2 linked regions of the Homo sapiens genome follow. The protein of the gene in region 1 interacts with the protein of each later gene in a pairwise test. Each region holds a gene or a part of one and is shown on either strand. Other genes may lie near its edges. The genes, in order: MLF1 and DNAJB6.

The links.
Region 2: the proteins of MLF1 (region 1) and DNAJB6 interact in binary tests that used the Homo sapiens proteins (3 or more experiments, as listed by UniProt).

Annotation. Positions count from the first base shown.
Region 1 is NC_000003.12:158,604,332-158,607,040, forward strand, and holds the end of MLF1 (myeloid leukemia factor 1), read left to right. Parts: intron 1-765; coding exon 766-871; 3' UTR 872-1,617; coding exon of another isoform or gene 1,618-1,639; 3' UTR 1,640-2,125; downstream 2,126-2,709. UniProt on the Homo sapiens protein: Involved in lineage commitment of primary hemopoietic progenitors by restricting erythroid formation and enhancing myeloid formation.
Region 2 is NC_000007.14:157,360,714-157,364,540, forward strand, and holds part of DNAJB6 (dnaJ homolog subfamily B member 6), read left to right. Parts: intron 1-2,447; coding exon 2,448-2,557; intron 2,558-3,827. UniProt on the Homo sapiens protein: Has a stimulatory effect on the ATPase activity of HSP70 in a dose-dependent and time-dependent manner and hence acts as a co-chaperone of HSP70. Plays an indispensable role in the organization of KRT8/KRT18 filaments.

The sequences.
Region 1 (2,709 bases):
GTGGCATTTTCTCTTAACCGGCACTGTCCAATGGCATTTTCTGAAATGACTTCGGTAATGACAAAAATGCTATATATCTATTCTGTCCAGTGTAGTAATCACTAGCCACATGTGGCTGTTGATTCACATTTGAAGCATTGCTGGTACAACTGAAGAACTGAATTATTTTATTTTAATTCAAATATAAATGTGGTTAGTGACTACCATACTGTTAACATTAAACAGTGTTTAAACTATAAACAGTTAAATCTAACAGGAAAACAGCTGTTGCTGTCTTAAATTCACTGAAATAGTCTGCCTTATTTTCTGGTTTTTTTTGTTTTTTATTTTTTGTTTTAGGGCAGGGGGTACAGAGTCTGGCTCTGTCGCCAGGCTGGAGTGCAGTGGCGCGATCTCAACTCACTGCAACCTCCACCTCCCAGGTTCAGGCAATCCTCCTGCTTCAGCCTCCTGAGTAGCTGGGACTACAGGCGCGCATCACCACGCCCAGCTAATCTTTGTATTTTTAGTAGAGATGGGGTTTCATCATGTTGGCCAGGATGGTCTCGATCTCTTAACTTGTGATCTGCCTGCCTCAGCCTCCCAAAGTGCCGGGATTACAGGCATGAGCCACCGCACCTGGCCAGCCTTGTTTTTCAAAGCCATTAAGGAATTTTTAAGATAAAACTTTTCTTATATTACAGTGGTTTTTAACATGTTTGTATTGATTTATAAACCATTGGCCATTTTTTAAATGATATTAATATTCACATGTATATTTCTCAGGGAGAAACCTCAACAAAGTCCAGCCATTGAACATGGAAGGAGATCAAATGTTTTGGGGGACAAACTCCACATCAAAGGCTCATCTGTGAAAAGCAACAAAAAATAAATAGCCATGCATTTGATTTGTTTAGTTTTGATTGTTTTAACAGTTAGTAATGGTGCTGGGTAATAAGCATAAGACCAATCTCTTGCTGTTAAATCAGTTCTGTCCTTGGCAACTTTCTTCTGATATCTGAATGTTCATGAAGGTCCTAGCTTTATATTGTCCCTCTTTTAGGAATAAAATTTTGATTTTCAACAATGTGAGTAAATTGAGTCTATTTAATGTAAAACTCTTTAAAACATACTAATTTTTTAAAGCTTATATGCTTATTTCGCTTCCCCAGTTGTTTTTGTGTTGGCTAAATATTCTTTTATATTTATCAAGATTGATTGCAGAGCAGTTCTATCACTTATAATTAGTTATAAGAAATTATAATGTTAAAAAAGTCTCAGTTTTTACTAACACTGTACTAGGGTGATATTAATAAAGGTTTAAATAATTTATCTCTAATTTTATAATGTGTTGTAAAGCCAACTAGCTTAAAACTTTAAAAATAATAAAGCAAAACTACACTAGTACTCTTTTATGAGAAAATAGTTACTATTTTGATAAAGGGCAAGGATAATCAAATAGTTCATTTTCAGAGAAAAATATTTTAAATTGCTAATGTACATGATTGTTTTGGTTATAATTTATTTATAGAATGTATCTTTTCTATATTACATTCTTAATATTCACCAGATATTATATTGACCATTCTCTTTAACTTCTTAATGTGGCATATTTCTACTCTCCTTTCCCACAAACAGCTTCATCTGTCTCCAAGGTTAACATTCTGAAGCTGGAGAGTCCTTGGAGAAACTCTGCTCAGCTTTTTTGTGACATTTAGAAAAATGCATTTGGTATTCTCCAAACCAGAATGATACATTGTCTCAAAATCTGTTAGACAGCTGATGGGTGTTTTTGAGCAACGTCTTAATAATTCAGTTGTTTCTGTTTTAATTATACCATTAAAAATCAGCTTTAGCTTTTTAATTCTAGAATTTAAGCATCAGTCTGTTCTTATAAAAGTTAGGTTTGAAGTTTATAAGAATATAAAATCTTAACTCACATTTGTTGTTTAATATTTCTGTCAAGGAAAAAAGCCCCCAAAAATTGCTATCACTCTATAATCCTAAGTATTTTTCTTTTCAATTTTGTAAGTAAAATTATATGACTATGTTCATACTTCTCTAATTTTTTATATAATATTTTTGTTAATTTTACTAGTTTGTGTTTTATGCCTTTAGTCATTAAAATAAAATGCAAATGTGTTAATTCATTGTTGAAATTGAGCATGTATTAGTTAAAAATTTCCTTTTAGGCATACTTTAGTATACTCCTAACATACCATAACACATTGGGAAATTGTCATAAGGCACACATTTTAAATAACATCTTGATATAAATTAACCTGATAGAGCAAAGTCTTAATAAAGTACATACTTGATTTTCCTTTTGCCTAAATCATTACACTGATGATAACTTGAATCATTGTAGTCAAATCTAAAAACACCCTTTAATAAATAATTGTGTTTAACAGTATAATTCCTGTACATCAGATTGCAGTTAGAGATTGTGGTGAGGCAGAATTTGAGATGGTAGTACCGAGAAAAGTTCTGTTTCTTTCTTAAAAGTCAACTCTATCTTTGCACCATAAAAACATAACTATCGATATCTATACCCCAGAATAATATTTGTTTGCAACAACTTCTTATGATGGGTGTTTAATACTGTTAGTCTGTAAATTGAAACTATTTAAAACTATATACATGCCGGGCGCAGTGGCTCATGCCTGTAATCCCAGCACTTTGGGAGGCTGCGGCAAGTGGATTGCTTGAGGTCACTTCAAGACCAGCCTG
Region 2 (3,827 bases), on another chromosome or scaffold:
TTGTGTACCCTTGGCTTTGTGTGTTGACAGTTTTTGATTGAAGACTTAAAGGTCTGTGGCTGCCACCTGTTCTGCATCTCTCCTGAGATACCAGACTCTTCCTGGGTTTGAGTCACACACCATGGGCCTTCCTTCCTTGGTGCTGAAGTACTGGTGTGCAGGTCCAACAGATCTGAAGGTCAACATTCAAAGTCATTTGGCACTGTTTACACTTGCATATCGTGTTGTATTACACCTTGATTTTTAAATATTTTAGTAGTGTATGACTGGGGCATACACAGTTGAATCTTGTCCTGCATTCTCATCCATTGCCAAGTTTTCATATGAACACTAGATGATAGGTAGTACTGCACACTAATCATTTTTTCTCTTTTGTCTTTTGTATGGTCTGTTATTTTTGACTGAGGATTTCTGGCACATTTAGGGTTATTTGATCCACTGCTACACGTTTTTTTTTTTTTTTGAGACGGTGTCTCGCTATGTCACCCAGGCTGGAGTTCAATGGCGTGATCTCGGCTCACTGCAACCTCTGCCTCCCAGGTTCAGGCGATTCTCCTGCCTTAGCCTCCCGAGTAGGTGGAACTGCAGGCGCCTGCCATGATGCCCAGCTAATTTTTATATTTTTAATAGAGACGGGGTTTCACCATGTTGGCCAGGATGGTCTCGATCTCTTGACCTCGTGATCTGCCTGCCTCAGCCTCCCAAAGTGCTGAGATTACAGGCATGAGCCACTGCGCCCGGCTGCTACATGTTTGTTTAGGTCCACAGTGACATAAATTACTGTTAAGTATTCTGGACTCCAGCTTTAATCAGATTTTAGTATGGTTAAGCCAAGGTTTTGTTGAACATGTTGTAAGTTAAATTGAGCCACAACAGCTTTACAGTAATAACTTGCCTAGTGTTAAAAGCACTGTCAGATTAGTATACTAGTCTGAAATTTTGAGGGGTATGCTGCTTCTCTTTTTTAACGTTACCCTCCTTTTGAATATATGCTGCTTAGGTTTTGCTAATTAGACTAGAGGATTTTTTTGTATTCATTCATTCATTCATTCATTCATTCATGCATTCATGTTGAGCCGGAGGCTCGCTCTGTCACCTAGCCTGGAGTTCAGTGGCACGATGTTGGCTCACTGCAACCTCTTTCTCCTGGGTTCAAGCAATTCTTCTGTCTCAGCCTCCTGAGTAGCTGGGATTACAGGTGCGTGCCTTCATGTCCGGCTTTTTGTATTTTTAGTAGAGATGGGGTTTTGCCATGTTGGCCAGGTTGGTCTCGAACTCCTGACCTCAGGTGATCCACCCACCTCGGCCTGCCAGAGTGCTGGGATTACAGGTGTGAGCCGCTGCACCCGGCCTTTTTTTTTGTATTTAAATAGCGTGCAATTATTTGGTCAGTTGGAACTCTGCAACAGAATATGACCTTGGTCATAGAATCTTTGTAGAAGTCAGTGTTTTAACTCTGTTTAGATCTTGAATCTGGCACAGAGGGTGTTTGAAAGATTCTGAGATCCTGGCCTGTTGGGTGGCAGGTGATTCACCTTTGGCACACAGATGAGCTAGGTAGTGGGGCTGGCTGAGGAAGTAGGGTCCTGGGAATCAGAACATGGAAGGATATGAATGGTGATGTTGGATCTTGCTGCTCAGTGACCCAGGCCTTTTTTTCCCTTTTTAAAAATTTTTTGAGACGGAGTTTCGCTCTTGTTGCCCAGGCTGGAGTGCAATGGTGCGATCTCGGCTCACCACAACCTCTGCCTCCCAGGTTCCAGTGATTCTCCTGCCGCAGCCTCCTGAGTAGCTGGGATTACAGTCAAGTACCACAATGCCCGGCTAATTTTGTATTTTTAGTAGCGTTGGGGTTTCTCCATGTTGGCCAGGCTGGTCTCGAACTTCTGACCTCAGGTGATCTGCCCACCTCCCAAAGTGCTGGGATTACAGGCATGAGCCACCACGCCTGGCCTTTCTCCTTTACTTCACATACTTGCTCAGTCTTGTCACTGTCAGTCCACGTTGTGGACACTGTGATCTTTATTTTTCTATCTCTAGAGGTTCGTTTGTATTATGCTATCAGGATTTTTATTCTAAAACTTACTTTAATGAGTATTTTTACAATTTTAATTTTGAGACAGTCTTGTTCTGTCGCCCAGGCTGGACTGCAGTGGTGTGATCATAGCTCACTGTAGCCTTGAACTCCTGGCCTCAAGCAGTTGTCACGCCTCAGCCTCTGGAGTAGCTGGGTCTATCTGTGGCTGCACGCCACTACGCCTGGCTATCTGGATTTTAGAACTTTGTGTATTTCATTGTAGAGGAAAGGGAGGTTTTACAGTTAAAACCAGTATTCATCTCACCAGTTGGCAGCTCTGAAGCCATTCTCGTGGTTAATGATGTTAGTTTCAAAAGCATAGTTGATTTCTGGATTTAGAATGTGATCTATATCCTTTATTCTTTCCAAGATATCGGAAACTGGCACTGAAGTGGCATCCAGATAAAAATCCTGAGAATAAAGAAGAAGCAGAGAGAAAATTCAAGCAAGTAGCGGAGGCATATGAAGTGCTGTCGGATGGTGAGTGACAGCGAGCTGCTGAAGGACCCTGAGCGGGCATGCCGGAATGCGGAGTGGGTGTTGGGATCCTCCTCAGGGTAGCACAGTATGGACTCAAGTGACTTGTTTTTGATGCCTACTGGATTTTGGGCCCTTCTAAGAGATTTTTACTTTTCTCGTGAAGATTTGAATTGATTTAGGTAACCACGAGTGCTGGGGAGCTCCAGGGCTTCTAGTAGTTTCTCCTAGGATGGCTGTTTTAAAAGCGGGACTAGACATCCTGGGTTTGAGGAACCTGGGAGAGAGGAGGTTGCGGGACTCAGGTCACTGTGCATGTGGCGTGCTTGCCCCCGTTGTGTGTGATCATTCTGACCTTGCTCACCCCCACTGGCTTAAACAATACCATTCCAGTGGAGTCAGCTTTACTGCTTGAGAGGATGTCATTAGTTCCCAAAAAGAGGGGATGGAACATACAGCTAAAATTTAGATTTCCAGTTTCAGGCCTGTTTTCCCCTCCTAGGTCTGGAGCAGAGGTGTTCTATGTTACTGGAAGTCAGATCCATTGGCCTAGTTCACAAATGGGTGAGGGGTCAGAGGTCAGCTGTCGCCTAGATGCAGTCAGGGTTCCATGGGGGAAGTAAAGGCTGTGCATGGGGCCTGGGGTGGGGGAACAGTGACAGAACTGGAAAGCCACACAGTGCCCCTGTCTGCTGCAGTGCTGGGTGGCCTGTTGTGAGCAAAGGCCGAGGCTTTTCCAAGGTTAGGGATGGACTAACTGAACCCTGGAAGTGGGCACTTGGTTAAGTGTATCTGCATGTGGTCAGGTAATTGGCCCTTATTTACAACAAAAAAAATTTTTTTTTTTTTTAAAGAACCCAATTTGAGGCAGAGGTTGCAGTGAGCCGAGATTGCGCCACTGCACTCCAGCCTGGGCGACAGTGCGAGACTGTCTCCAAAAAACAAAACAAAACCAAACCAATCAGAAGGAACCCAGTGTAAGCTTGCCACCTTCAACAGCTACCAGCACACCACCAGCCTTGCTTTCTCTGGTGACACTGTGGCCCACCCCCTTTGTTTTAGAGGAAATTCCAAACATTTTACTTCAAAAAATATGAAAAGACATAAAAACACCGATATTTGAAGTCTTCTTGAAATGTGGCATTTAAGGTCTTGAACTGTTGAGCTTATTCATTGGAAAGTTTATTTTTTTTAAAGAGAGAGGATCTTGCTATGTTTCCTAGGGAGGCCTTGAACTCCTGGGTTGAGGTGATCGTCCTCTCTCCTCAAGTTC